Linked DNA regions of Homo sapiens. The main gene of each other region encodes a partner of the protein of the gene in region 3 in a complex. Each region holds a gene or a part of one and is shown on either strand. Other genes may lie near its edges.

The links.
Region 1: MAP3K5 (region 3) and DCP1A share a complex: the UniProt entries of both Homo sapiens proteins name them as parts of the cytoplasmic complex.
Region 2: MAP3K5 (region 3) and ARHGEF6 share a complex: the UniProt entries of both Homo sapiens proteins name them as parts of the cytoplasmic complex.
Region 4: MAP3K5 (region 3) and PAK1 share a complex: the UniProt entries of both Homo sapiens proteins name them as parts of the cytoplasmic complex.

What each region holds. Positions count from the first base shown.
Region 1 is NC_000003.12:53,308,386-53,317,437, reverse strand, and holds part of DCP1A (mRNA-decapping enzyme 1A), read left to right. Parts: intron 1-5,058; coding exon 5,059-5,197; intron 5,198-9,052. UniProt on the Homo sapiens protein: Necessary for the degradation of mRNAs, both in normal mRNA turnover and in nonsense-mediated mRNA decay. Removes the 7-methyl guanine cap structure from mRNA molecules, yielding a 5'-phosphorylated mRNA fragment and 7m-GDP.
Region 2 is NC_000023.11:136,777,285-136,786,352, forward strand, and holds the start of ARHGEF6 (rho guanine nucleotide exchange factor 6), read right to left. Parts: upstream 3,649-9,068; 5' UTR 3,599-3,648; coding exon 3,434-3,598; intron 2,214-3,433; coding exon 2,130-2,213; intron 1-2,129. UniProt on the Homo sapiens protein: Acts as a RAC1 guanine nucleotide exchange factor (GEF).
Region 3 is NC_000006.12:136,557,296-136,566,347, forward strand, and holds part of MAP3K5 (mitogen-activated protein kinase kinase kinase 5), read right to left. Parts: intron 5,321-9,052; coding exon 5,208-5,320; intron 4,351-5,207; coding exon 4,238-4,350; intron 1,582-4,237; coding exon 1,505-1,581; intron 524-1,504; coding exon 463-523; 3' UTR 1-462. UniProt on the Homo sapiens protein: Serine/threonine kinase which acts as an essential component of the MAP kinase signal transduction pathway. Plays an important role in the cascades of cellular responses evoked by changes in the environment.
Region 4 is NC_000011.10:77,320,800-77,325,429, forward strand, and holds the end of PAK1 (serine/threonine-protein kinase PAK 1), read right to left. Parts: intron 4,578-4,630; coding exon of another isoform or gene 4,529-4,577; intron 2,562-4,528; coding exon 2,475-2,561; 3' UTR 2,356-2,474; coding exon of another isoform or gene 2,338-2,355; 3' UTR 1,218-2,337; downstream 1-1,217. UniProt on the Homo sapiens protein: Protein kinase involved in intracellular signaling pathways downstream of integrins and receptor-type kinases that plays an important role in cytoskeleton dynamics, in cell adhesion, migration, proliferation, apoptosis, mitosis, and in vesicle-mediated transport processes.

The DNA.
Region 1 (9,052 bases), on a different chromosome or scaffold from region 3:
ATCCTAGCACTTTGGTGGGCCAAGGCGGGCAGATCACCTGAGATTGGAAGTGCGAGACCAGCCTGACCAACATGGAGAAACCCTGTCTGTACTAAAAACACAAAATTAGCCAGGTATGGTGGTGCATGCCTGTAATCCCAGCTACTCGGGAGGCTGAGGCGAGAGAATCACTTGAACCCGGAAGCTGGAGGTTGCGGTGAGCCAAGATCGCGCCATTGCATTCCAGCCTGGGCAACAAGAGTGAAACTTTGTCTCAAAAAAACAAAAACAACAACAACAACAACAAAAAGGCACAGGGTTGTTGATTCATGGTTATCCAGAAATCCAGATTTTTTCTAAACTTTGGAATGTATTAATATATAAACACTTTCTCCTGCAGAATGAGGACGTGGGCTTTGAGTGAAATGATCTGGCTCTTTTAGCTCTAACAACTATTGAAAGAAAACCGTTTATCTATCAGGGCAAGTGTTACCCCTAATGCAAGATTTCAAATGATAAATGAAGCTGAAGACTGAAGGCCTATCTAAAAATATTTTATTGAACCCAGAAATAGGATTAGGAGTAGAAATGGAAAGCTGGAAGGGAAAAGAAGAGCATTGGGGCTTCTTTCACCAGAAATGCCCGAAAAGGGACAATTGCTTAAATTTTCAGCTTGTTTGACTAGAAACAGATGTGTTATTAAAAGTGATTTGAGCCTGGGCACAGTGGCTCATGCCTGTAGTCCCAGCACTTTGGGAGGTCAAGGCGGGGAGGATTGCTTAAGGCCAGGAGTTCAAGACCATCCTGGCCTGATATAGCAAGACTCATCTCTGTTTAATTAAAAAAAAAAAAAAAAAAAAAAGGGAAGAAGAAAAGAAAGTGATTAGAGAAGCCAGGCACAGTGGTGTGTACCTGTCATTTCAGCTATAATACTTGTGAGGCCCAGGTGGGCAGATCACTTGGGCCCCAGGAGTTCAAGATCAATCTGGGCAACATAGTGAGATCCCATCTCAAAAAAAAAAAGTGATTAGAGAATACCCTGGTGAAACTGTTGATAATGAGTTTTAAGTGTCTGGCCTATTTATAGCTGAAGAGAATATTGTATGTTACCATTAACTTTGTGATAAATGCCTCTCTGGTCACCAAAACTAAAGAAGACTATCTGTCTTTGTTCTAAATCTGCCTGCATAAACCTGTTTGTTACTTTTTGTTGTTGTTGTTTGCTACATATTTGAGAATATCACCTCTACTATCCAAAAATACTAGCACAGTTCTTGTTAGTATATTATACATATAAATAAATGTGTCCATCAGTGCCCATTCTTTTAAATACAGTTCTTCCCATCACTATTTGACAGCCACAATATAATAAAGATCCTCCAAGTAAAAAAACTGATTTACTCCAGGCTGGGCGCGGTGGCTCACGCCTGTAATCCCAGCGCTTTGGGAGGCCAAGACAGGCGTATCACGAGGTCAGGAGATCGAGACCATCCTGGCCAATATGGTGAAACCTCGTCTCTAGTAAAAATACAAAAAAATTAGCGGGGCATGGTGGCGGGCACCTGTAGTCCCAGCTACTCAGGAGGCTGAGGCAGAAGAATGGCGTGAACCCGGGAAGCGGAGCTTTCAGTGAGCCAAGATCGTGCCACTGCACTCCAGCCTGGGCGACAGAGCGAGACTCCGTCTCAAAAAAAAAAAAAACAAAAAAAAAAAACAACAAACTGATTTACTCCAAACAATGTTTATAAAAACGAGAAACTATGTAGGAAAATGAGTGAGCTTCTAGACCCTATGTCATCTAAATTTGTATATTCTCTGGTCAGTGGTGGCAGAGTTGAAAACCCACTAAACTTAGAAGCTGTTGACTCTCCTAAAGAGGAAATCCAGTCTGCCAGAAACTCTTTTTTTTTTTTTTTTTTTTTTTGAGACAGAGTCTTGCTCTGTCACCCAGGAATGTGGTGGCGTGATCTGGGTTCACTGTAACCTCCGCCCTCCTGGGTTCAAGCAGTTCTCCTGCCTCAGCCTCCCGAGTAGCTGGGATTACAAGTGCCTGCCACTGCACCCAGCTAATTTTTGTATTTTTAGTAGAGACAGGGTTTCACCATCTTGACCTGGCTGACCTTGAACTCCTGACCTCATGATCCACCCACCTTGGCCTCCCAAAGTGCTGGGATTACAGGCGTGAGCCACCACACCCGGCCTCAGAAACTCTTTTTAACAATAAAAAGTTGTTTGACGGTTTGGCCACATAGACTATGTAAACTTTGGAGAACTCATGGAAGTAAGCTTTATTCCTGATCTTACAGACATCTTAGGGGTAGGTTTTGGTGTTTGAAAGGAAAGGAGAATGGCATGAGTGCTATCCATAAAGTTTGGATTAGAAGAGGCCTTAGAGTCCAAGCCTCGTTTATGTGAGAGTCCCTTCCATTACCACCCCCGACAGCTTCTGCTTTCAGCAGTGGTGAGCTTTATAAAATTACCTGTTCTGGCTGGGCGCAGTGGCTCACGCCTGTAATCCCAGCACTTTGGGAGGCTGAGGTGGTCAGATCACTTGAGGTCAGGAGTTCAAGACCAGCCTAGTCAACATGGTGAAACCCTGTCTTTATTAAAAATACAAAAATTAGCCGGGCATGATAGTGCATACCTGTAATCCCAGCTACTAGGGAGGCTGAGGCACGAGAATCGCTTGAACCCGGGAGTCGAAGGTTGCAGTAAGCCGAGATCGCACCACTGCACTCTAGCCCGGGTGACAGAGTAAGGCTCTGTCTCAAAAAAAAAAAAAAAAAAAAAAGAAAAAGAAAAGAAATATTCTTCTCTTAAACCAAAATAATCACAGAATCACAGATCCTAGTCTGGGTCAGGGAAGAGTTAAATACCAGCATGGCCAAGTCAGGCAACATGTCAGGAGGTAGGTGGAAAACAGGCCGTGTGACAGATCCTTTATGAAGATGGATTCAGGCTGATGTGGCCTATATTTGAGCATTAAATAAACAATTCATGTTTGGTCTTATTCTCATATCCCATACCAGTCTTTCAGTCTACCATGAAGCTCATGATGCTACATTTGTTTTAGAAGTAATAGTCTTATTAAGAGCTATAATTATGAATCTAGATAGAAAAACTACATGTTACCTTAAAGCCACATTTTCCAAACAGGAATTCTACCTCAGAGTAAAATTCTATAGTCAAATAAAATTTGAGAAAATCTATAGGCCTGCCCTTCTTGGAGAATCACAATAAATTTTAGCATGCTTAAAAATCAACTGGCCAGTTGTGGTGGCTCATGTCTATAATCCCGGCACTTTGGGAGGCTGAGGTGGGAGGATTGCTTGAGGCCAGGAGTTTGAGACCAGCCTGGGCAACATGGTGAGACCTTGTCTGTACAATAAAAAAATAAATAAAACAAACAAACAAAAATTCAATGGGTGGGTTGTGGTAATTCATGCCTTTAATCCCAGTATTTTGGGAGGCTGAGGCAGGAGGATCACTTGAGACTAGGAGTTTTGGGACCAGCCAGGGCAACATATCAAACTCCATCTCTACAAAAATAATAATAAAACTCAAGGATTCTGTTTTTTCTTTTTTTTTAAGTCGGTTTAATATTGTTTAACCCAGTATTTTTAAATAAAAAAGCCATCTCTGTTCACCTCTTCCCCACACTCTAATGAGAGCTCCTGTGCAGGCTGGGTTTTTTGTTTTTTAAAACAGGGTTTCACTATGTTGCCTGGGCTGGTCTCAAACTCCTGGGCTCAAGTGATCGTCCTGCCTCAGCCTCACAAAGTGCTAGGATTATAGGCATGAGCACTGTGCCTGGCCTGAATGAATCTTAAAAAAAACAAAAAAAGTTGCTTTATTAAAATTTATTATTCAAGCTTGAAAGCTTGAAGAAAAATATAGGAAATAATAAAATATGTATGTGCTTACCACCCAGCTTTCAGTTCCTAATATTTTGCTGTAATTGTTTCAGATCTTTCTTTACAAGGGAGAAGGGGGTGTTCTTAAAAACTGAAAGCCCACTTAGTGATTTTTTTTTTTTTTTGGAGTCAAGGTCTCACTCTGTTACCCAGGCTGGAGTGCAGTAGTGTGATCTCAGTTCACTGCAGCCTCTACCTCCCAGACTCAAGCAGTCCTCCCACCTCAGCCTTCCAAATAGCTGGGACTACAGGCGTGTACCACTACGCCCAGCTAATTTTTGTATTTTTTGTAGAGACGGGGTTTTGCCAAGTTGCCCAGGCTAAGTTGGTGGTTTTTAAAAGGGAGAATAAGGGAAACCTTTTATTTGCTTATAGTGTTACTAACTTTTAAGGATTCACCAAGACCTCTATTTTCAAGAACTGACTTTGTCCTTGCTAGCCCAGTGTCAATCCAAACTTTCCACAGAGGATTTGTTCAACTATGCAGCCTTCCTGTGTCTTGGTGGAACTGTCAGTTTTCATATTTACTTTAGCAATTAGTTTGACTGATTTTGAAATACTTCAAGGGAAAAAGGGAGAAACCTTAGTGGAGTTTGTAATGCATCTCTGCCAACTCTAGGAAGGAATTCTGTATTTTTATCCTTCTGAAGGGTAAATATTGGCACTGTTAATGAGACGGTGAAATGGTAAGTCATTTATTTCTGAAATGAGGTAACTGAAGTTCTGTGTTATATATTGCAAGAATAATGTAATCGGCTGGGCGCGGTGGCTCAGGCCTGTAATCCCAGCACTTGGGGAGGCCTAGGGCAGATCACGAGGTCAGGAGATTGAGACCATCCTGGCTAACACGGTGAAACCCCATCTCTACTAAAAATACAAAACATTAGCCGGGTGTGGTGGTGGGCGCTGTAGTCCCAGCTACTCCGGAGGCTGAGGCAGGAGGATGGTGTGAACCCAGGAGGTGGAGTTTGCAGTGAGCCGAGATCACACCACTGCACTCCAGCCTGGGCGACAGTGCGAGACTCCATCTCAAAAAAAAAAAAAAAAAAGAAGAATGTCATCATGTGACACTCTTAGTGTATCCTTGGAAGATGAACACCAAAAGAAATCTTGGGTCAGATTTTGTTTCAAGAGGCCTTTCTAAAACCTTGTTCTTCTCCTCTAGTGTGGTAGAAGAGGAGACACGGCGATCCCAGCAAGCTGCTCGGGACAAACAGAGTCCCAGCCAGGCCAATGGCTGCAGCGACCACAGGCCCATCGACATCCTGGAGATGCTGAGCAGAGCCAAGGATGAGTATGAGAGGGTGAGGCTCTCTGGGTACTTGGGTGCTGACCAGGGAAGACCAAAACGGGAGGAGGAGGTCTGCAGGAGACTATTTTACTAGGGAAGCTGGCCTCCAGGGACGGCAGAAATATAAGTTCAAAAAGAGAGCGTGTTAGCACACTCCTGTAATCAGTCCCAGCTACTTGGCAGGCTGAGGAAGGAAGATCACTTGACTCCAGGAGTTGGAGGCTGCAGTGGGCTATGATTGTGCCACTCCACTCTAGTCTGGGCAACAGTGAGACCCTGTGTCTCTCTTTTTTTTTTTTTAAAACAGATGTGTCTTACAATTTTAAACCTAAAACATAAGGAAAGAACTTGCTTACCCCAGATTACTTGTTTTTGGCAGGAAAATTTACAATGCTTTTTTCTATTCCTATAAGATTACTATGGGAGAAGATGGTCTTGGAGTGCAGAAGTTAGCTCGCAGCAGCTAGTTCTGGTAAAGCTTCGTGCCTCTTCTTCACCACTGCAGTTTCTGTTAGGATCCTCAGTGGTCCTAGGAATTTGTTTAGGCTTTGAAAAGTATTCTGATAGTTTGTACCACATAATACTAAAAAATACACTCATGGTCTGTAATTGGTGGTAGATGCACAACCTTCATTAAGCTTCATTTGGAATTTTACCCAAATGAGAGGCTTTTCTGAAATTCACTGTTTTCTTTCTCTTCTGTTGTGCATTTTAGTTTATAAATTAGCTGATAAAATTTTCTCCCAAAAGTTGAATAAAATGGCAATTGTGGTACTTTCGTTAATTTATTCAATACCTGCTTATGAACCATCTACTATGTGCAAGCAGTGGGCATTTCATGGTTATGACTCTCCTGGAATTTTACTTGGCACCTCAAAGCCCCCACACTTCACTGGAGTGAGACAAGCTCTCTACTGCTGAACTTTGTTTTAGCAGAATTATACTGTCACCTTACTCTTCATTAAATATTGAATTAAGTGCTTTCCTTTCATGCCTATTTCACCTCACCAGAACTTCAAGGAACAAAATGTGAAAAAGCACTGTCCAAAAGACCCTGTTTCCCATACAGTTCTGCTATAATACCAGCTACTAAGTTATTAATCAGTGATCCTGAAAAAAGCTTCAAATTGGCAAAACGAGTTAAGGTACTGTTGTTAGCATGACTCTTCCTCCTCCCATCCTCTTGGGACTTTACAGAGCTCAAAACTGAGAGGTCCTGCAATAAGTAAAACAATAACACCAATTCCCAGATTGACTTGACTGCAGGACCATTTTTTGCATACTGCCCTTTAACAACTCAAGAATTTGGAGTTCAGGAAAAAGTTTGAAAAAAGTGTTCTGAAAGATAGTTTCTTCTGACTAAAAATAGGCATGTTCACCATAAACTACATAGACCTTCTACATTCTGATAACAAAGGAAGTCCCACCTCCAGGGTGGAGAAATGTACATGAGAGCCCATGAGAAGTTTCAAGTTTGTACCAAATTCTTCAATGTCTCACAGAGAATTAGGAGGAATGAATGGATCTATGGAAGTTAAATTTGGAGGAGCAGTCACCTCTCTAATAAATTAATCGATTCTTAGGAAACCAAATGAGAACTAACTTCAAGAATGGCTTTCTGATTTAGAAGTTACCTTACATTCCCCTCTTCTACCCTTGATGACAAGCGGATTTTCTACGTACATACTTTGTTCTGTTTGTAGAGCCCTTTCAGTGTTCTCATAGGTACCTAGTAAGTCCAGGGCTCTGTCACTCATCCTGAGTAATAACTGTATCAAGGTACCACACGGGACAGAAACTGTAGGTGCTGCGCACTAAAGCAGATACTCCAGTAAGTGGCCTGGCTTACTCAGGCTGAGAGGTTAAGTAGCCACAACGAGAAAGTAGGAAATAAGACATTAGCTTTGAACACAAAACTTTAAAGGAACTCTAGGGTCAGGTGGGCAATCTAAACATCTGACATTATTTTGAATTATATCAATATTACAAAAGGAATATAGATAGCATGATAGTTTCTGTTTTAAATAAACTTCTTTCACACTATGGAATAAAATATCGTCTATGGGTAGATTAAAATGAAACCCTTTGGGATTTGGTTAAATCTTTGATATTTACTTTATCATGTGTTCTTTCTGATTTTGAAAACTGTCTGCAATAGGTGGAGCTTCTTTGAATTAGAGTTTTGTTCTCTTATCTGCATTTGTCTATCATCTCATCAGATGGAGCTGGTATAAGCAGTGACCCATGAATTCATGGGTCTTGGTGTTTGGATGGGCTCCCTTCAGCTGCCACATTTTTTCAGACGGCCCCTTTGTTTATCTTTAGGTGAAGACTCAGAAGATTGGCAATCAAGGGCAGGGGTGCAAGCTAGGCCTCAGTGTTGGGATTTAATCCTGATTCTGAGTCTCCGCTATCTGCTGAGTATGATATAATGAACGAAATTTCAGACTTTTGAATGAGCACTTGTAATAATGAGACTCTTTTCTTTTTTCAGACAGGGTCTCTCTGTTGCCCAGGCTGGAGTGCAGGGGCACAATCTTGGCCCACTGCAGCCTCTACCTCCCAGGCTCAAGACATTCTCCCATCTTAGCCTCCCAATTAGCCACGACTATAGGCCATGCATCACCATGCTTGGATAATTTTGTTTATTTTTTGTAGAGATAGAGTCTCACTATGTTGCCCTGGCTGATCTTGACAAGCTCCTGGGCTCAAGCTGTCCTCCCGCCTTGGCCTCCCAAAGTGCTGGAATTATAGGTGTGAGACACTGTGGCCAGCCTAGAGACTGTTTGAAAATTAAAAATCTGTATAATAAGCATTTTCTTCAAAAGAAAGATATTGCACTTCTATAATATCTTTTAATTAACTTTCCTTTTTTTTTTTTTTTGAGATGGAGTCTCGCTCTGTTGCCAGGCTACAGTGCAGTGGCGCGATCTCGACTCACTGCAACCTCCACCTCCCAGATTCAAGTGATCCTCCTGCCTCAGCCTCCTGAGTAGCTGGGACTACAGGCATGCACCACTATGACCGGCTAATTTTTTGTATTTTTAGTAGAGACAGGGTTTCACCATGTTGGCCAGGATAGTCTCAATCTCTTGACCTCGTGATTGGCCCGCCTCAGCCTCCCAAAGTCCTGGGATTACAGGCGTGAGCCACCGTACCTAGCCTCAACTTTCTTATTTTTTATGTAAAGAAAGATAGTTGAAACCACACTTGGCCCATTATGAGTTGCTTCTAGCCATAGGATGTAATCCTGGATTTTGGTCAGGGGGGTGCGGATGGTTGTTTGTTTGGTTTTAGTTTAATTGCAAAACAGTTTTTTAAAGTCCAGGGTATTTTTGTTCTTAAAAAATAGAGGCCAGACACAGTGACTCATGCCCATAATTCCAGCACCTTGGGAGGCCGAGGTGGGAGGATTGCTTGAATCCACGAGTTTCAGACCACCCTGGGCAACATAGCAAGACCTTGTCTCTACCAAAAAAAAATTTTTTTTTAATTAGTTAGGCATGGTGGCACACACCTGTAGTCCCAGCTACTCCGGAGGCTGAGGCGGGAGGAGCACTTGAGCCCAGCAGTTCGAGGCTGCAGTGAGCCATGATTGAACTGCTGCATTCCAGCTCAGGTGACAGCAAGACTCTGTTTCTTAAAAAGAAAAAAGAAAAGAAAAAAATAGGATAGGCCAGGCGCTGTGGCTATGTCTATAATCCCAGCGCTTTGGAAGGCTGGAGCAGGAGAATTGATTGAGGACAGGCCTGGTCAACATATAATGAGATCCCATCTCTATAAAAAATTTAAAAATCAGCCAGGTGTGGTGGTGTGCACCTGTGGTCCTGGCTGTTTGGAGGCTGAGGTGGGAAGATCACGAGCCCAA
Region 2 (9,068 bases), on a different chromosome or scaffold from region 3:
CATGAATAGACAATTCTCAAAGAACATATACAAATGGCCAAGAAACATATGAAAAAATGCTCAACATCACTAAGCACTGGAAATGCAAATCAAACCACAATGAGATATCACCTCACTCCTGCAGAAATGGCCACAATTAAAAAAAAAACAAAAAATATTAGATGTTGGCATGAATGTGGTGAAAAGGAAACACTTCTACACTGCTGGTGGGAATGTAAACTAGTACAACCACTATGGAAAACCTTAAGTATGGAGATTCCTTAAAGAAGTAAAAGTAGAACTACCATTTGATCCAGTAATCCTACTACTGAGTATCTACCCAGAGGAAAAGAAGTCACTATATGAAAAGGACACTTGCACACACATATTTATAGTAGCACAATTTGCAATTGCAAAGTTATGGACCCAGCCTAAATGCCCATCAGCCAAAGAGTGGATAAAGAAAATGTAATATACATATATATAATATGTATACATACACACACACACACACACACACACACCATGGAATACTACTCAGCCATAAGAAGGAACAAAATAATGGCATTCACGACAACCTGGGTGGAGGTGGAGACCATTATTCTAAGGGAAGTAACTCAGGAATGGAAAACCAAACATCATATGTTCTCACTTATAAGGGGGAGCTAAGCTATGAGGATGCAAAGGCATAGGAATGATGTAATGGGCTCTGGGGACTCAGGGGGAAGGGTGGGAGTAGGGTGAGGGATAAAAGACTCTACATTGGGTACAGTGTACACTGCTCAAGTGATGGATGCACCAAAATCTCAGAAATCACCACTGAATAACTTATCCATGTAACCAAACACCACCTACCTGTTCCTCCCAAACTATTGAAATAATATTTTTTAAAAAGGTCACACGAGTCCTATGAATTCGGTGCCACTATTATTCCCATTTTGTAGGTAGGAAGACTGAGGCCTAGAGTCATAGTTAAGTAACATGCCCAAGGTCACAAAGCTGCTAGTAAGAGAGAACTGAGATTTGAACCCAAAAAGTTTAGCACCACAGTCCATGCTTAAACCACAACTATTTGTCCACGGATAATATGACTAATACTAGTCTATTAATATAGAGTACTTCTTCTGTCCCAGGCCCTATGCTAAGGACTCTACATAAATTATCTCATAGATCTTACAAGGTTGGAGCTCTTGGCCCTAAATTATTATGCAGTATCTTATTTGATTCTTTTTTTTTTTTTCGAGACAAGGTCTCTTTCTGTCATTCAGGCTGGAGTGCAGTGGTGCAATCACAGCTCACTGCAACCTCCACCACCTCTTGGGTTCAAGCGATCCTCCCACCTCAGCCTCCCGAGTAGCTGGGACTACAGGCACAAGCCACCACGCCTGCCTAATTTTTGTATTTTTTGTAGAGTCACCATTTCACCATACTGTCCAGGCTGGTCTCGAACTCCTGGGCTATAGCAATCCTTCTGCCTTGGCCTAGGATTAAAGGCATGAGCCATCATGCCCGGCCTTATTTGATTCTTAAAGCAATCCCATGAGTTGGCTATTAGCATGTCCGTTTTACAGATAAAAATACTGAAGCACAGAGAAGTTAAGCAACTTGATGCTCGTGTGGAAGTATCACCTCCCTTTCAGTAACACTTCCTATACACACTGTAGGGATCCATATAATATAAAATAATGCCACAAAATTTACTATACAATTTCTACCTCAAAGCCAAGTTCTCTCAGCTTTTCAAGGCCTCTGTTCTAAAGTGTTAATGGGAAGGAGTAACAATGGCCTTTCCTCTTTTCTCAACTTGGGAGGATTACAGTGACCCTCTCCAACAGTCAGTGGCCCACTTTTGGTTCCCCTTAGTAGGAGAACACACCCACACAAGCTCTGTCACTGGAAGCCTGTTTACAGGGCTTGGATGCTGTATATAAAAGGCATTATTGTGTGAGTTTTTATTTTGTTTTGTTTTGCTTGGAACTGGTTTCTGGAAAAGACAGACTAGCAATCCATTACTGGGGACCACCAGTCTGCTACCTCTGTTTAACTCAGTGGCCAATGACAGTGAAAATAAACAAGTACTCTTACTACCAATCTTGATTAGCAGAGCAAAAAAACGATGACAACAGGGAAGGCACCCGGGGTAGGCTTACTTCCACTTGGAGGGTTGCACATCCTTTCAGGAAGTCATTGATGTTGTTGATGCAGTCAGCTTCAGTTTGGGGATCCAGACAAAACTAGAGGAACACAGTGAAATGTCACTTGGAGATTGTCATCCCATGCCAAGCAAAGTATACTCATCATTTGCTGATAACTAGAGAAAGCAGGCCTCTTAAGGTGTGGGGCAACACTGCTGTCAATCCAGGAAGAGAAATAACCACTGAAGGAAGTGATGCAAAAATCTAAACGGTCGATCTTTGTTTCAAATGTCACCAAACCTTTAGTGGCAAGCCATGTCTACTTACAAGCTTTCTCTCATGCCTTCTGTTCCAGTGTGCTGATGGCAAATTAGGGAGACCAAGACAGTTTTTTGAGCTTAGTTCTTGCTTTCAAGAAAGGAAGCAATCCCTGGTACCTCTCTCTCCTCCTTCCCCCTGATAATTTAATAAAATTCTATTTCCCCTCTACATTTGACCACACTTCTTTACATTTTATCACTATTTAATCACTCTTTCTCAAGTTTAAGAAATTATAAGTAAATTTATTTGCTCAATAAAAATACAAACTGGCTCATGAAGGCAAAAGTGCTATGCTCACAGTCCATGATGACCTTAAGAAAGTAAATGTAAAATTGTACCTTTAAGCTTACTTAAAGTGCCTACTTTAGAAATTATCTATTCTCGTGATCGTGGATTTCCAGCTATTAAAAATCTTGAATTGTTTTAAAGAGAGTAAAGTTAGTTTCACTTTGAACGCACATTGCATTCGAAACATATATCTGGTTTCTATTGCTTTTACAAACTTTATGTGACATTTTGAATTATTTTTTTCCTAGTTGCTATATAGTCTCTCCTTCAATGGATTTTTCTAAAAGGAAATCTACACTGATTTTAATCAAACTGCCAATAAACACCACCAAGATCTGTTATAAATCATTCTATTTTTCCACAGACTCATAAGTACCCCAAGTTCAAAACATGTCCTCGGTACACAAGGAGATGTAACATGCATCTCCATGATAGAGCAAGCTTGTGATATGAGTGTTCTCCTTGTCCCTTGTTGCCAGTGGTGTCACAGGTTTTCCCTATACTACAATTTGGGGGCCAATTACTAAAGAATAACGTTTCATTTTCTTACATTTTCAAACTACAAAAACAGTAAGAAAGAATGTCTAACTCTTAGAAAAATATTAAAGTAGGAGATTCCCATGGCCTGGGAAATAGAAAAATCTCAAGAGTTACATGATTGCTGCTCTCTGGTGATAAGCAATCCCAAAGAGACTGCAAATTTCCCTTACCTTTTCCACAGAGCCAGGCATGAGTCTGTTGATCAGTTTGCACAGAACTACCCCATTTTTCAGCGAGGACTTTAAAAACTCCTCCGGATCACAGATGGTCTTTTTAGGGGACTCTAAAACTCCCAAAGATATAAGCCATGTCACGATTTGTTCTTCTGGATTCATTACTGAGGACGGTACACTCCAAACAGCACTCTGGGGCAGCTGCAAGGACTAAGCCACATCCGCGATTGCATCTGCTGTTGTCTTCCTTTTTATGAGTTCTCTTCGGGTGCTTGCAGAGCAAAGGTTTAAAGCAACTTTTCTTAAACAACAGCGGAACCCACTCAAAATATGGGATTTTAAAACCACAGAGATCACGGTCCAAGATGTGGAAACAGATAAGAATTAATTTAACAATCCTGGATAACGCTGGTTTTTCCTTTTCAAAACCTGCAAAACAAATTCGTTAGGATAAAAAAAAAGAAGAAACGCACATGCACACACGCATACACACACACGCACACAGAGTGCAAGAAGTTATAAGGGAAGAAAGTGAAAAGGATGCTGGGGAGGGAGGAGAGACAAGCAAGCAAGTGCTTTGGGAAACAGAGGTGAGCCAGCACTTCAGGGGACCTTGGAAATGAGACACTCATGGGCCAGTCTGGGAAAACACTGTCAATAAATAGTCTAGCCCCAGTGAAAATCTGGCTTCTGTTAGGAGGACGATGCCAACTGGCTCTTAGGTCAGACAGATCTGAGCCTCATGGGGAGATGTGCTGGCACAACAGGGCTCAAAGAAGGTAGACAGAAAATTCTTCCAAGAAATAGCCGGATGTCCTCATAGTATCTCCCAGAGATGGTGTGTCACGATCATTCCTTGCAAAACACGTTGAGTTGCATGGTGACAACGTGCCAAGCAAACGAAGATTATGCCTGCTGTCAGCCATCACTGTGTATAAGCAGAAGCTAGAAGAATGGCATTTTACTTTGCAGCCAAAAAGCTATGTTTAGGGAAATAGGCTAAGGATAACATCTGACATCCTGTTTACTTGCATTCTTTAGCAATTCTTTTTCTGGACCTGGTTCCACTACATAATCCAGCTGCAGTACCCTTAGCAAAGGCTCAGACTCAGTCACATAAGTGGGTAAAATACACTTGAAAAAATAGAATGTTTGAGAACAAAAGAGCACTTGTCCTCTGTCTACACTACAATATGGAAGATTCTTATTTTCCCAACAACAACAACAACAAAAAAACACTTTGCACTTAAAATACTGCTCTGAAAAAAAAACTGTCTATAACAAGAGATCTTCATCATTCTCAAACATTTTCAGAACCACTTGAAATAGGCATACTATTGGGAAATTTATGATAAGGCCAACTTTAATAGTATAACCCTATGTTGGCAAATGTGTGGCACTTACCATGATTACCTCTCCTCGTGCATGGGAGACATCAGATCATGTATAGCTCTTTCCTACTAAGCCTCAGAATTCTTTTCAACACAGCTTCAGGCATCTACTACCAAAGAATCAGCTTAGATAACCCTACTAAACATTTTCAAAGCTGCCCTTTCTTGCTCTGTCAGGACACTTGTCACACTTTACTATTATCACTTGTTGATCTGATGATCTGACTCCTCCACAAGAATGTAAACTTCCTAAACTCGGGGTCTTGTTTTTTTTTATTTAACACTGTGTTACCAGCAGACTGCCAGGTATACACAGTAGATGTTAAAAAATGCTGAATGAATAAATGAATGTATTCAGATGGTGTCCCTGATATAGACAGTAACTGATTATAGCAAGGATTTTTTGTTTGTTGGTTGGTTTAAATGGCTTAAAACAAACATTTTTTCTTGTTAATGATTTTTACCATTTTATTAAGCTGTAATTGACACATAAGGAACTGCATATATATGATTTAATGAATTTTGACATATACATACATCTTTGATACAATCACACAAATGCAATCCAGATAAGCCTTTCCATCACCCCCAAAATTGTCCTCGTGCCCTTTCAATTCTTTCTTTCCTCTTTGCCTCCAAATGCCAGGCAACCACCAATCTATTTTCAGTGTCTATAGATTAGTTTGCATTTTCAAGAATCTTATATAAATGGAAGTACACAGTATGGTACTATCTTTTTTCTGGCTTCTTAACTCAACATCATCATTTTCATACTCATTCATGTTATTGTGTCTGTCCATAGTTCTATAACAAGGTTTGCTTGATGTACTTGTGACTTAAGCAAAATAAGTATAATCAATCAAAAGTTTTCATTGACGTTGACCCATGGCCAAATCTATGTAATGGAAATAAAAACAGAATACATTTGTTGATAAATAAAATTCCCAAATCTGACGAACTTAAACACATTTTTATATGTCATCTGAACAGTTTTCACAACTGCTCATCAAAATTTTACTCTACAGACAAACAAAATCTGGCAGTATTATTGAGGTATCACTTACATCTTCTGATGAAGAACAAAGCCTGAGTAAGTTTTGTGAACCCAGCCTCCTCCAAAACAGTCTTGAGTTCACCAAGGTCATCTGGATAAAACTCTGCCTCATTTTGGACACTCACTATAGCAAATATTACTATGAGTAATAAAGTATATCAGAATGGCAAGGCCACTGCCTCAAGGCAAAAGAACCAGTTCTATTTGTATAAAGATTGGAAGTTACAGTTGGTGTGGTAAAATGTCAACAAAGCAAGGAATTCCAGGGCAGTGGCAAGCATATAGGTGAAATGGGTACCCATGAAACCCAGGCTGGTTAGGGACTCAAATGAAGCTAGAAAGGAGCTGATGAACTGAGGGAATAGGGGAAGAGGGGGAATTCAAAGACTGGGGGTCACAGCAACACAAAGAGCAGGCTTCACACAAGAGCATGAGAAAAAAAAGCAAAGATCTCTCACCCTACCTCAGATCCTCAGTACCACACCCTCTGGGCCACTGAACCTGCCTCTTCAAGGGCTTTCCACCTCCATCCTCTCATCCTAATGAACTCTCTAACAGGGCACATTTGGGTTGATTTTCCAAAAACACCTCTAGTGTTAATACCCCTGTTCAAAAACCCTCAAAGGCTCTCTATTGCCTAAAGCAGGAATTGACAAAAAACAATGTTCATATGATCATCTCCTGTGAGGCATAAAGGAGAAAGGAAGGTGAGAGTGGAACTTAAGCTAAAATAGGTAACATTTCATGAAAAATCAAAAGATCTTCAGGAAATAAGGCAAATGTGAACATTTGTTAAGACTGAATGCTGGGTACACTGGTACCTGTTTTACTATTTAGTTTTGTGTGTTTAAAATGTTACTAACCGATTCTCTTTCATTTCAAATCTACTAAGGCACTTACTAAAAAAGAATATTTGGGAGCTCTCTTCCCAGATACTCCAGTTCAGAAGATCTGCAGTGGGAAAAAGGAATTTGTGTTATCAAAGTATCCCACTTGATTCTGATGCAGATAGACCAAGGTCACACTTAGAGAAATGAGTTTATTGGTCTCTAACCTTCTACACCACTCTAATTTCTGCCAACACTTGGGTCATTTCAATATCCACAAGAACAACAATCCAACATCAAGACCTCTCAGTTCCTTGAACTTCTCAACCTGTAATCAATTTATTACCTCTCATTTCCCCTTTATGCCTATTCTGTGAAATGGACCTGGGACCTTGAAATATTTCTGACTTTGCCAGCTGGCATGATACAAAGTTTTATCAGTAGGCAGTGGTGGAGAGACATTGCAGGAAGAAGGGGTTTTACTTCCTGTTTTCTGTGCGCTCACTCCACAAGCTCCTGCTGAGCTCCCAGCTTTCCTATTGCCCACCTTCTGCAGCACTGGTTTTCCCAACAAACAGTAGGTAGCAACCTCCCCAGGCACTACCCTTGAGTGTTTAGGCAGCAAAGAATCTCTGATGAGACAGACACCTTCCATGTGAACCAGCACCGTAGAGGGGTATATTTCAGCAAGTTCCAGAGAATGTACATCCAACAAGTTCCACCAACTCAGCACCAGAGCAACTTCTCCAATAAGGCCTGGATCTCGACCGTGGGTGGAGAGGAGGGTTATCACAGCTCTAGAGGTATCGGCCATTACATATTATTTTTATATTGTCTGCTATTTATATCTGCTATCCCATACTTTTTAGAGTTTCCTTTATTTATTACTAACCAATTCTTCAACACTCCAATCCCCTGTTATTGTTAATTCTTTATGTTAAACTCTTCTTGTTAAAATTACTATGTAGTAGGCTGGGCACGGTGGTTCACACCTGTAATCCCAGTACTTTGGGAGGCCAAGGTGGGCAAATCACCTGAGGTCAGGAGTTTGAGACCAGTCTGGCCAACATGGTGAAACCCAGTCTCTAATAAAAATACAAAAATTAGCCAGGCATGGTGGCGGGCATCTGTAATCCCAGCTACTCTGGAGGCTGAGGCAGGAGAATCGCTTGAACCTGGGAGTCAGAGTTTGCAGTGAGCTGAGATCGTGCCATTGCACTCCAGCCTGGGCGACAAGAGCCAGACTCCATCTCAAGAAAAAAAAAAAAATACTATGTAGTGTCTATGTTCTGATTGGACACCAACTGATACACCTTGTTATCTTAAATGTATACTTCCTCTCCACTTTAGCTAACCTCTTGGAAGGTTACACCTTGTACTTTTTTATCACACAAATTTCTCTGTCTCCTAAGTCATGAATTCCAACATTAGTTTTTTTTTTTTTTTTTTTTTTCGAGACAGAGTCTCGCTCTGTCACCCAGGCTGGAGTGCAGTGGCGCCATCTTGGCTCACTGCAACCTCCACCTCCCAGGTTCAAGCGATTCTCCTGCCCCAGCCTCCTGAGCAGCTGGGACCACAGGCGCGCACCACCAGGCCTGGCCAATTTTTTTTGCCTTTTTGGTAGAGACGGGGTTTCACCGTGTTGGTCAAGCTGGTCTCGAACTCCTGACTTTGTGATCCACCCGACTCAGCCTCCCAAAGTGCTGGGATCACAGGCATGAGCCACTGTGCCCGACCCAACATTATATTTTCTAAACAACCTACCATCTTTCCAGCTTGCTTGTTACTCCCACTACAATTCCTTGACCTCATAGGTATCTGCAAATCTTTTTTTTTCTAAAATGATTATACAAATTTACATTCCCACAAGCAGGGTATGATTTTCCATTGCTCCATGTCATAGGTAAGACTTGATATTTCAGACTTAAAATTTTGTTATTTCATGGGTATGAAATTTATATTTCTATGATTACTAATGAGGTTGAGCATTTAATATGCTTATTGGCCATATATGTTTCCTCTTCTGTGAGATACTCCTTCCTACTGCCCATTTTTCTATTGGGTTGTTTGTCTTTTTGTTATTGGTTTGTGAAAGTTTGTTATATATTATAGATACGAAATTTATGTCATTTATGTGTGTTTGCAAATATCTTCTTATATCTTTGTTTTTCATTTTATGTGTATTTTAAAGAACAGAGGGTCTTGATTTTTAAAAATAAAATACTTTATCTCACTGTTGCGTAAAATAAATGTAGAATTTGGGTTTCCAAGCCTAATATGCAGCTTCGTAATCATCAGAGACCCAGGATTCTACTCTCCTGCCATAATTAGCTTGTCACCTCATAGTTCAGAATGACTAT
Region 3 (9,052 bases):
AATTGAAATTACGCATTTCTACTCAGATTATTAGAGCATATTACAAACACACAGAAGCCTAAACAGTTATGGTCACATTTTGGTTTTGTTCCAGTGGTGCACGATCACATGAAATGTTACATCCGTTTTGTGTGAAATAAACATTTGGCTGAAGTGCAATAGCTGCTGCATTAAAAATATTTCCATAAAAATGCTTAGATTAAAATCTTCCTGAACATTAGGGTTCTAATGTTCAGGATTATTTTAAGAGTCCTTATGAAGAGTCCTTAAAAATTATAGAAATAGATGTAGTTAGGAAATTTCAGTGTGTTTTGTCTGTTTTTTTTTTTTTTAACATGAGTAAACAAATACTGGATTTAAAGTGCAGCGCCTTTCTCCTCTCCCTTCGATTTTCCCACCCCCAAGAAGATCAGCTCTGTATTAATTTTTAGAATTTCCATCGAAGATTAGATTGAGCAACAGTCAAGTCTGTTTGTTTCGAAAGTCAATGATAGCCTTCCACAGTGTGCACAGCATCCCTCCCCTGTTTAAAGACACAAGAACATGGTGAAACGAACATTTCATTTGAAACATTGCCCTTGAAATAGAAAAGTGACTTCTTAGCTTTCATCTGCTCTGGTCAGAAGAAGATCCCAAAGTCTGATCAGTTATTATGTATTCTTTTTGTATATTTTTTCTCATCTTCCCTCCATTCCTTCCCTTTTCACTCCCACAAACTGCTATGTCCCAAAACATCATTTTAGAGTTTCAGCATTTTTGAAATTTGTCTTTATAATGGTGGGTATAATAGTTTTATGCTTGGGCTGGGCGCGGTGGCGCATGCCTGTAATCCCAGCACTTTAGAAGGCCGAGGCAGGCAGATCACGTGGTCAGGAGATCGAGACCATCCTGGCTAACACAGTGAAACCCCGTCTCTACTAAAAATACAAAAAAATTAGCTGGGCGTGGTGGTGGGCGCCTATAGTCCCAGCTACTTGGGAGGCTGAGGCAGGAGAACGGCGTGAACCTGGGAGGCGGAGCTTGCAGTGAGCTGAGATCACGCCACTGCACTCCAGCCTGGGTGACAGAGTGAGACTCCATCCCGAAAAAAAAAAAAAAAGTTATATGCTTGGCCTTAATTAACAAGAAATTATATCAGATTATACCAGGTTTTTGGAGGGCAAGTCAGCACCTCCTCCAAATATTTATTGAGTATAACACCATCATGAACTCAATTAAAGCATTTGTTTAAGGCAGCTTCAGAATATCTGCATGGACTTAGTCTGCATCTTATTCAAAAAAATTCTTCCAGTTGATTTTCACTTACTAATATAGAAATATTGGTTATTAGAGCCCTCAAAAATATCATTGTCCAACTAACTCAGTTTACTCAGAGCAGCTAAGAGCTAGAGAGCTCTGTCCAGAACTACAAAGCTAATTAGAGACCCAGCCTGGGAAGATACTCAGACTTTTTGATATTTGCCTGGTGCTCTTTCCATAGTGACAACAGAAAGAAAAGTGGTACCTTAGTCTCAAGCATTTTAAGTCATCACGTGTAACATAGTAGAGAACATCCAATAGTGTATAATCTTCAGCCAAAAACTGTAGAGAAAGTAGAATATGCACAAAAGATGTTTTATATAACTTTAATAAAGCACAAACTCTATTCATAATGTAAACCTTGACTATAATTAAAAATGAATCTAAAAATGAAATCTACTAAAAACACAATCTTCCAGGATTATTAGGGGAAAGGCCTCCCTGTTACTCAATAAATACAAAGAAATGCATCCAGGCCGGGCGCAGTGGCTCACGCCTGTAACCCTAGCACTTTAGGAGGCTGAGGCAGGCGGATCATCTGAGGTCAGGAGTTCGAGACCAGCCTGGCCAAAGTGGTGAAACCCCATCTCTACTAAAAATACAAAAAATTAGCTGGGCGTGGTGGCGTATGCCTGTAATCCCAGCTACTTGGGAGGCTGAGGCAGGAGAATCGCTTGAACCCGGGAGGCAGAGGTTGCAGTGAGCTGAGATTGACCCACTGCACTCCAGCCTGGGCGACAGAGTGAGACTCCGTCTCAAAAAAACAAAAACAAAAACAAAAACAAAAACAAAAACAAGAAATGCATCCATATTAACTTCCAAATGCAAAAAGATTACAAGTGACACAGAACTTCTGAATGGTCTTCTAATGAACAGATGAGACTCACTTGTAATCACTCTGCTGTTCAAAAGCAAATCTTGTATTTAGAAGTTCAATGCTACATAGCTTTGTTTTTCCTCAAGTGGATAAAAAGTGTTCCTGGAAAGGTACTGCCTATGCTTAATTTCTGAACTTATTTTTTCATGGTTAAGCAAAGGCACTTGACTGTAATTCACCATAAAAGCAGAGTCTTAATTTAAACTGCACCTTTATATTTTTAAATTTTATTTATTTTTTTATATATAGAGACAGTCTCACTATATTGACCAGCCTAATCTCCAACACGTGGCCTCAAGCAATCTGCCTATGCTTCCCAAAGTATTGGGATTACAGGCAGGAGCCACTGCACCTGGCCTCAAGCTTTTACTTTTAAACCAAATAAAAAGGGTGATTATTTAGTAGATTATCAATTACTATTCCTTAATTAGGATTTGAGCCTAAGTTAGAGGAATGTATATTCTGGAGTTGTTTAAATTTATTCAGCTGTAACTTGTTAAATGTAGATTTCTAAGGCGGCCCGAAATTCTACTTAGTTAATAAATTATCAAGTCAAAAGAAGAGATATCTTTATTCTTATTTATTTTTAAAATTTAAATATAAAACAAAACAATATTGTATTAAGAGGGTCTTTCTATCAAATATTACAATGTTTTAATGTATGCCTGTGTGTTCATATAATGAACATAAACAAATGCTATTCACGCTCATTACAAAAGTCTATAGGGGCTGGGCGCAGTGGCTCACACTTGTAATCTCAGCACTTTGGGAGGCTGAGGTGGGCAGATCACTTGAGGCCAGGGTTCGAGACCACCCTGGCCAATATGGTGAAACCCTGTTTCTACTAAAAGTACAAAAATTAGCCAGGCTTAGTGGCATATGCCTGTAATCCCAGCTACTTGAGAGGCTGAGGCAGGGAATCTCTCGAGCCTGGCAGGCAAAGATTGCAGTGAGCTGAGATCGCACCACAGCATTGCAGCCTGGGCGACAGAGTGAGATTGTGTCTCAAAAAACAAAATCAAAAAAAGTCTATACAGAGCAGAGAGGAATTAGATTATTACAGGTAAAATATGGTTTGTATAGAAAATATTTCTGAAATAAGTCGACCAGATTGATTTTATTAAGTAGCAATAAAATAGCTGCTGCCCAGTGGAATCTAATAATGTTGAAAAAGAATTAAAAATTTAACAAACAGGCCTGGCGTGGTGGTTCATGCCTGTAGCCCCAGTACTCTGAGAGGCTGAGGTGAGAGAATCGCTTGGGGCCAGGAGTTTAAGACCAGCCTGGGCAACATAGCGAGACCCTATCTCTAAATTTTTTTTTTAATTAGCTGGGTATGATGGTTCATGTCTGTAGTCCCAACTATTCAGGAGGCTAAGGTGGGAGGATCACTTGAGCCCAGCAGGTCAAGGCTGCAGGGAGCTATGATCACTGCCCTCCAGCCAGGGTAACAGAGCGAGACCTTGTCTCCAAAAAAATATAAAATAAAATAAAATAAAATAAAATAAAATAAAATAAAATAAAAATTAACATACAAAGAATTAGAAACAAGAAATTTTTTCTTTTAGTCCTGTCTTTATTTTTTTCCCACTCTTTCTGGTTTTCATTTCAAATACATAAAATTCCTAAGGGGCTCAGGACCACAGAGCTTTTGCCTGCCTCGTTGGATTGTACACACTGCAGCCCCACTGCACAAGGTTCTTCCCTGGTCTCCCTCCCACACCCCTCCTGAACATACATACAATTGGCCTATTTATACCCTCACATTCTGTTAGCCTTCAGCTCTTTCATTCCCTTCTCCAACAACCTTCCCCAACCTCTCTCGCCCTATCTAATAAACACCTGATACCTTTTTCTTCATAGAATTTACCAGTGTAGAATCACATTTGTATCTGTGGAGTTAGCTGATTATCACGTGCCTACCCTGGTCTGTAAGCCTCAGGAGGGCAGGGCTGGGTCTGATTTGCTCACCAGTGTATCCCCTGTGCCTGTCACATAGCAGGCACCCAACATTATGAAACGAAGTGAAAGAATACTTGTCCCACAGACAGTTTTCTTTACCCGGCTTATAGTGTCTTCATCAGCTCCATTCACTCTCAGCCAGTCGGTAAGTTCAGAATCTTCAGTATTTGTGCCAGAAGAATTTAGATGAAATACAGGCAATTCAGGAATTTCTAGAACAGAATTTTGGGAAGATATTCTTAATTTCACCTAACAGAGGTCATCTGAGACCCTCACAATCAACAGACATTTATTGATACTTTAAAAGATTTTGCTCTATCAGAGAACAGTTCATAGAAACAATTGAGATTGGCAGTATAGATGATAATATGAATAAAACTCAGAGAAGTGAATTTACTAGTAAATAAGGAGCAAAAGCAATAATGAAATGACACTCCTACGTTACACTTTCATATCAATTTTATGGTTTCTTAGAATAAACTCTGTGCACCAAAATTAGACTTTGTGTTTTTCATGCAATAAAGATGAATACAATTAGCAGAGAACTATATAATTATCATAATCTCTTTTTCCACTATGAAAGAGCCACATATCTAAACAAATAACTATGAATTCTGTTTTCCTCTAAATGGGCTAAATAACATTCTCCCCAGCTATGCCTTTTTACTACTACATCTTTATTCTATTTAAGCCTCTTCAAATTATAAGGAAAAAGGCTAGAATACACAGAATATAAATGCAAAATGACAAAAAATAGTATTATTTATTCTAGTAAGCTCATTGTGAAATCTTTAAAAATAAAGACTAAAAACAGAGAGCCCTGTTTACCTCAGTAATACATAATCTCAGGAAAAGATGATTATGAATAATCTATTTTTACTGCACTTATAAGAAATGAGTTTGCTACAGTTAAAAACTGGATTTTTTTTTTTTAAAGGAATTCCTGCTTGCAGTCATGGTAGAAGTGAGAAATGCTGACTTAGCCACAAATAAAACTTCCTGTTGGCTTTCTTGGCTTTTTGTGGCAGCCTGGCTGAACAGTATTACTATAAAACTTTCTGCTATTCACCTATGGGTTGGGACTTAAGCTTCAGGTGTTTAATTTCTTGGTCTTTTTCTTCAATAGCTCGATGAAGGAGTGCTTGTAATTCTTTCTCTTTCCGAACCAATTCTTCCAGTAATCTGCAGAAGAAAAATATATTGTTTGACAGGAGGTGACACAGGGTGACCTTCTTTTTTTTATTTTTATTTTTTTAGATACAAGGTCTCTCTCTGTTGCCTAGGCTGAGTGTAGTGGCCCAATTATAGCTCACTGCATCCTTAAACTCTTGGACTCAAGCGATCCTCCCATCTCAGTTTTCCAAGCAGCTGGGAATACAGACATGCACCACCATGCCTGGCTAATTTTTTTTTTTTTTTTTTTTGTAGAGACAGAGTCTTGCTATGTTGTCCAAGCTGGTCTCTGAACTCCTGGCCTCCAGTGGTCTTTCCACCTCAGCCTCTCAAAGCTCTGGGATTATAGGTGTGTGCATGTGCCACTGTGCCAGGCCTAGGATGACCTTCTAGACATGAGCTATAATAAGCACATACACCCCTAATTTTATTGAAATACAGATACTGGTCCAGTGCCCCGGGGGTGAGTTCTGAGACTGTATTTATAATGAGCTCCCAGATGACACTGATGTTGCAGGTTCACAGACCCTCAGGTCCAGAAGCTAAGCTTTGGAAGACTGTGCTTGCCGACAAGAATTCAAAACCTCCACCACAGATTGTCTGCCAAAATCTTCAGAGATGTGTCCTGATATTTCTTGTTATGACCATAAATGTCAAAGATATAAATATGGGATACAGATATTAACAGGCCTATATTTTACATGTATGGACCCCCATTAAAAAAAGTTGGCAAATGTGCATAATTTCATAATCAATGCAAATCAGAAAAGTAATCACTTTTTGTAAACTATGAAAATTTGAGAAACAGTCATAGGTGAGGTCGCCTAGAATATCTGGCATATAACAAATTCTCAGTAAATGTTCACGGTTGTTGCTACAATTGTGATTGTTACTATTATTCCTCTTCCTTCTAAGGGGGCGGGGGTGAAGTGGGTAAAAGGATAGCTGTGTTCCTGGTACATTCAGTTCCTAGTTGGCATCTGATGCAGTCTCCAAAGAAACAAGGAGAAACTGTGATATTCATACCAAAGTTCTTACCCATAGAAGGTTCACTATGCAACTGAGAGCCAACTGGTAACCTACTCACCATTTCCAATAGAATTTCTCAAAGAAAACATTCCAAGTTATGAAAAGAGGTGCTCTAATTTTTTAGAAAAGTATCTTAATGTAAGTTGGATTCAGAAATAATAATTTAAAATATATCGTTATTAAGATTATCAGGATAAATCGTTGCATAAACTACAGCTCTTAACAAACTCTATTTGTTTCATTTTCTGAGTATTGATAGATTTAACTCAAGAGTTTGTTTCTGCTTCACTTGACATAATCTGAAGGCAGCATCGTGCAACTGACAGATCTGGGCTTGTGTCCTGGTTCAACCCTGCACTTCCTGTGTTAACCTTAGATAAATTACCTAATGCCTCCAGGCTTCAGTTTTCAAATCATTTGTAAAAAAGAAAACTAAAGCTTCCAGAAAAGATTATTGTGAGCATTAAATGAGACAGCATAGGTACAGTGCCAAGTCAGTGTCTGGTCTTTAATAAGGGATGTTCTGTTCCTTGCTACCTCAGTCCCTGGAAAAGAGCCTTTCCAGGACTCAGTGGGAAGGAAACCTTCCCAGACCCCCAGGCTCGACCCCATTCCCACAGGACATAAAGATGAGATCCTCAGAGAGAAGGGATCACAGCAGAGTAGGTAGCAGAGGTGGGACAAAAGTAAAACACAATAAGAGGTAGACAGAGAAGGTGGGTGGAGGAAAATAAGTTAACAAAGACAGCTGCAGGGTAAGTGTGGTGCACAATGAGGTGGATGAAGCAGCATGAACTGAAAGCTAGAAGAGGGAGCACAGGGTCTTGGAGGGAGGCTTCTTATCTCTTTCAAAACAAATATTATCCAAAGAAATGGGCAGGAAGCTCTGTGTGAATGTTTAAGTTGGCAGTTTTTTGATCTGGTATGTATTTTTGTCCTACTTGCTAATTTATACGTATAAGACAGTGATGGTATCTTCTTACTGTTTTCTCAAGGAACACAGTGATGTTTTCTAGAGTTTAACCTATGTTTGTCTAGACTATGTAATTTCTTTTTATCTTTTGTTAAAGTGAATGAAATATGGCCTGAGAAGGACTCCGTACTTGCATATTTGAGTCCTCGTGGACAAACTATAACTTAACAGGTAGACAAGATTGAAAACCTAACTTAGGAGTATGCGTCTATAACAATAGCTGAGTCTTGGCTAATCCCAGGAGCCATACTTCAACCACTCATACACTGCTGAGTGTTCAAATAAGGTGAACGCCAACCCATAACAAATCCAGCTCTTTCTGCACACTTCTGATTTCTGTACGTCACTTTACTTTTATTTTCTATAAATTTGTTCTGGCCACGAGGCATCCCTGGAATCTCTCTGAATCTGCTGTGATTCTAGAGGCCACCTGATTCACAAACTATTTTTTTCTTTTTCAATTAAACTCCATTAAATTTAATTTGTCTGAAGCTTTCTTTTAACACCTTAAACACCAGAACTTCAACACTGGAAGCAGAGTATTGACAGCCCACCTCATTTGCTCCGAATCCAGCTCTTAGAAGTATTTATCTTAAGAACAATCCAGTACATCAATTTTATTTTTATTTTGTGTTTATTTAGCAGGGCAATATTTTGAAATCAAGGCAACTGTCTGCCTTTCTGTTCCAAAAAAGTATGGCAGGATCTGCCATGAGGTCAATTTTTAACCTTGGATGGGCAGGGGTGATGAGGTGGATTGGTGGGTAATTCCAGAACTGTAGGATGGGGAAATTAAATAAACAGGCAGCTCCTCTTGAGACAGGTTTTTGTTTTTGTTTTTGAGATAGGGTCTTGCTCTGTCACCCAGGCTGGAGTGCAATGGTGCAATCATGGCTCACTGTAGCCTCAACCTCTTGGGCTCAGGTGATCCTCCAAGCAGGATAAACCTGATTTCCCTTCATCAGTGATCATCCTAAATATTCTAAGCTTACAATTTTTAATATGAGAGCTACAACCTTTCCTGAAAACACACTAACATTTCCTCTAGATTCATTTTGCGGTAGGTATGCCTTTATATTTCAGGTAATATTCAACTGAAAATTAGAAGGACCAATATGGACAGGACTGGTCCCTTATTTCAATTACTTGGTTTTTGTACTAAAGCAGCTGTCCTTTCTTCAAATCATGCATGAAGCAAACATCGTCCCTCATCTCACTTTTCTGTGGGTGATGGAAAGCCGTGGGAGATATTACTGAAAAAGGAAAAACGAGGCTGATTATCTGTAGATTTCACAGACTCAAATGTAAATATGCAGAGGAAAAAGCGTAAATGTGTGGGTTGTTGTGACATACTAATGTAATAAAGAAATGTGGGTAAATACTAGTCTTTTCAACAGAGATGGGCAGATGTGAGAAGCAGGCCCTCAGCTAGAACCAAGAGACACTCAGAAGAGAAAGGGGAAGCTGTGAAGAAAGCGGCCGGAAGCCCTCAGGGACTGCAGATGGCCCAAGCATGGTAGACAGACAGTGGCGCCAGGGTGGCGAGCACAACGCTAACCAAATAGGCCAAGGAGAGAAGGAAAAGGACTTGTGTCTAGGCTGCATTAGGAGAGGCAGGTCCTATTGACACAGCCAGGTGTGTAGACAGGAGGTTTCAGGGCCAGAAAAGCAGATATACCAGCTCTTTGGTAAACAAAGTAGTTTTACTATCTGCGTAATTCTAACCAGAAGGCATGGGT
Region 4 (4,630 bases), on a different chromosome or scaffold from region 3:
ATGGCTGGCCAGCTCCTGTGCCAAGAGGGCATTTTCTCACCCAAGGTGAATCTTGGTTCTCTAATTCCTTGGTTGGTTTCCATAATACACAGTTACTGCTGCCATTATGAAGTGTGCAGCTGATGAGGCAGTATCCACTCCAGACCTTTTGGAGCCTGCTTTATTGGTGGAAACGTGTGGTTATAGGAACATTATCCAGAGTGTGGAAACTCTAATGCCCATCACCTTCTGGGGCAAAGAAATGTAGTAGGGCCCAGATATCATACTCCGGAGAAGGACTACAGGCATTGAGCCATGGGGATTATATTTTGCACACCTAAGAAGCACTACATCTTCTCTAGTAGTATTAGGTGCTGGGATCCAATAGTAAAACCACACGACAGAACACTGGCCTCTAGCTCTGTTGTGCCATCTTTGAGAAGCATTTTCTCTGGTGTGATCAGAGCTGGGGCTCAAGCCTTATGGTTGTAGCTGTAGGATGTGATAGACCCATGGCCTAATTAGCCACCTGAGAATTCTACCAGGTATGACTGCCTTGAGCAGTTGGCTGTAGTCCATTATGATAGAGTTCTGCAGAAAACCAAATCCTTTGGGAGGCCAGTCCTCAGGGAATTCATCTTGGACAAGTTAACTTTCCTCTCAAGTGCCTACAGCCGGAATAATACATGAACTAGAGCTACACACAAACTAGGTACATATATTTTAAAAACATAATCTTGAGTGGAAACAATAACAGGCACAAAAGAATATATCTATTATGATATGTTTATTTAAAGTTCAAAAACTGGCCGAACTAAAATCTACTTGTATTGGAACACACCTGAATGTGATGAAAGTATACAGAAAAGCAAGAAAGTTATTTAAATAAAAGTCAAGATGGTGGTTACCTCTTAGGTGGGGGCTATAATGAGAAAGGAAGGACAAGATAGAGAAGGTTCTTACTGTCAGTGTTCCATTTCTTGATTTGGTGGATACAAGTGTGTTTATAATTATTCTTTAAACAATACAAATGGTTTTGGCCCATTTCTCTTAATTTATATTTAAAATAAAAGTGTTAAAAAGAAAGAATACACATTCAGGTATATAGTGGTAAAGGGGCATTCTATCTGCAACTTACCACTCTCAAATGGTTCAGGAAGAAACTACTCATTATTTCATATAAAAAATTAGAAAAGGAAAGAAAAAACGAAGAGAAAAAAGAAAGGCATACTCCAATAGAATATTTTCATCTCCTTTTATTGACAGAAATAGAAATTTGTGCTGCAGAGGCAGTAGTACCTCAGAGCATGAGAAGGTAGTCAATGGGGCTGACATGACAAGCCACAATGCTGGCCAGGGGTCCTACCATAGTGGGAGAACCAAAACCACAAAAATAGCAGGAGGTAGCAAACATCCCCAACACCCAGTGTAAGCATTTCCATTTGCAGAGAGCTTGGCCATGCATCTTAAAAACGGGGTCCCCTCACAGCTGGCAGGGTATCATGTCAGGCCACCAAATCCATCCAGAACTAACATGCAGTCTCTAATTTGGAGACTCTTTATTGTGACCAAAAGATTTGGACCATTAGAAGATCCAAGTTAATCTTTCAGCTCCTTATCCTAGGCAGAAAAAGGGGCTGAGTTCCTGAAACATCACACAAGTAGAGCTGGACAGGTGCTGATGCCCAGCCTTGCTCTAAAAGTAGTCACCATTTTCCCCGACTTCTCAACACTGCTCTCACTCAGTATGTGCCCTAGAAAACCTCTCAATGTTATAAACAAGGGACAGGATAGGGGCAGCAGCCTAGGGTATGCAGGGAATCAAAAGCTGCTACATAGCCGAGAGCATTTCACAAGAAACAGCATGGGAACACTATTGGGTCAAGGTCCTCCCGAACAGCTGCTAGAAGCACACACAAAGAAAAATGTGGTTGTTCTCCCATGTCAGGATCAGCTGAGCCAAAGTCATGGTCCAGGAAGCTGAGCCTCTTCATGTCCCTGGCAGATTATCAAACCCCATGGCATTCCCAAGCTGTTCCAGTTTTCAAGTACAATGAGGTGTCTGGGCAGTTGAGTCACAGAAAAGCAAGCACTAAAGAAATCTCAATTGATTACAAATTGATAATATTATCAAACCATAAATTTATATAGTCAAGAATTAATTGTGGGAGATGGTTATGAAGGAGGTGAGGATTTTGACACACGGAAGACTAGAAACATTTATTTATATAAACCCTTAATCATAAACCACCCTCATATCCATGAATTGGGAGGAAATTCCTTATTTAGAAATGGCCATCATCTGATTAGTCATTCAGTTGCAGTTCTCTTCAATGCTGGACACACGGTTTCCAAGGATCAAAGTCTTGAGGAGTGCTAGATCAGGAAATGGGAGAAGCAAGGCAAGGAGAAGAGGGCATCAGGAGTTGGAATTTCTGAAATGTGCATTTATCTCACAGAAGGCTTGGCACAATGAGGCTGGGGTGAGTGTGGTTTTAGTGATTGTTCTTTGTTGCCTCCTTAGCTGCAGCAATCAGTGGAGTGAGGCTGGAGAGGGGCTTGGCAATCTTCAGGAATTGATGCTAGAAAGGAGAAAAATAGCAAAAGACACATGACTATTTAACATTCTTCCCCAGTAACCATTACAAGACATAAAGGCATCTTTGTTTGTAAAGGGTGCTGTGTGGAAAGCTTCTGATCATCCCCAAATTGAAGGACATCTTAAAACAGACCACTTTGGAAAACTGTTTGGCAGCATCTACTTACAGATAAATACATCTACCTATACTCTAGTAATTCCAATCCTAGGTATATTCCCAAGAGAAATTAGTTTGTATAGCCACCAAAAGACATACACAGAAATGTTCATAAAAGATTTGCTTATAATAGCCAATAACCAGAAAGAACCCAAATGTCCAAGAGAATGGAAAAATGAATAGTGTTATATTCATATAATACTATACAGAAAATTACACAGCAATACAATAAGTAATTGGTACACTGACAAATGGGTTGAATCTCACAGACACATTAAGGGAAAGAAGCCAGACAAGCAAGTTCATATTGTATTATTCCATTTCTTCCGAGGTAAGCCTAACCATGGTGATAATCAGAATAATAATTACCTCTGGGGAAGGTATTAATAGATCATGACCCAGTAGTATATCGCAATACTGCATTTTAGGAGCATTGATCTAGGAATTTATTGTTCTATCCTCAAATCCAATAATGCTAATCATTCAGTAAAAAGTTCAGTAGCTTGGTCCTTTCCCAAATCACTTTCACTGGGCTGTACTTTGGGCCATACCTTCAACATTTAATGACTATTTAGGAGAAAATATTATATGAAAATTGCATCTAAATTTTCAGTAAAACTGTTACAGAAAGCAATTCCTTTTTTTTTTTTTTTTTTGAGACGGAGTCTCACTCTGTTGCCCAGGCTGGAGTGCAGTGGTGCGGTCTCGGCTCACTGCAACCTCCGCCTCCTGGGTTCAAGCAATTCTCCTGCCTCAACCTCCCGAATAGCTGGGACTACAGGCGCCCGCCACCACACCTGGCTAATTTTTGTATTTTTAGTAGAGACGGGGTTTTGCCATACTGTCCAGGCTAGTCTCAAACTCCTGACCTCAACTGATCCACTGGCCTCAGCCTCGCGAAGTGCTGGGATAACAGGCATGAGCCACCGTGCCTGGTCTAACAATTCCTTATGTAATTCTCAGAGCCTCTTAAAAATGGTGCTTTTTTTTCTTTTTAAACATTTAGTAGTAAAAAAGCTTTGTGTCTTAAAGCTGTAGGATGTTCTTCTATTTGATAAAAAATATAGGAGCTATCACATTTCCTTTTCTGCCCTGGCTACCAGGAAATTGAGAACCAGATTTGACCTCTAAACATAACTACTCAACTCACATGAGCATATCTGATTCTTCTGCCATACTTACAATTCCCTTGATTAGTCATATTGTATATATGTATACACACACACACACACACACACACACAGAGAGAGAGAGAGACAGAGAGAGAGAGAGAAAGAGAAAGAGAGAGAAACATATATACTAATATTCTTTGCTGAGAATTGCTGCAACTTCTGTTGGGACAGAGATAGTATAAAGAGCTACTGAGAACAAGAACGTACTATTACTATGAAAGGAATAAAAGATCCTAGCTAAATCATGAAGATATGAATTCCAATATATATCATTCTATGTATTTCTGTCTATAAGTGTGTTCTCACAGGAGAAACAGATGTGAAGCTTTTATGATTTGTGATTCTCAAAGTCATGGTTTTCAATATTTACAATGTACACCAACAAGTTAAAAAGCCAGCTTTCTCAGATCACATGTTTCTGCAATTCCCCTAAGTTGAGAGCAGCATGATCCAACATCGAATTGGGAGGCCTCAGTTTCCTTCTCTGTCTAATAAACAAAACAGACTAGATGAGCCCTAAGGGCTTCCAGTTGTGATACTCTTTGAGCCTATTAAGAGCAGTGGCCAAGAGCATACACACTTGAGAGCCAAACAGGCTGAAATCCTGGATCTGCTACTTACCAGCTATCATGGAAAAGTTACTAAACACTTGAAACCTCAGTTTTCTCACCTGTAAAAATGAGAATAGAACCTATGACTCACAGAGTTGTTGTAAAGGACAAT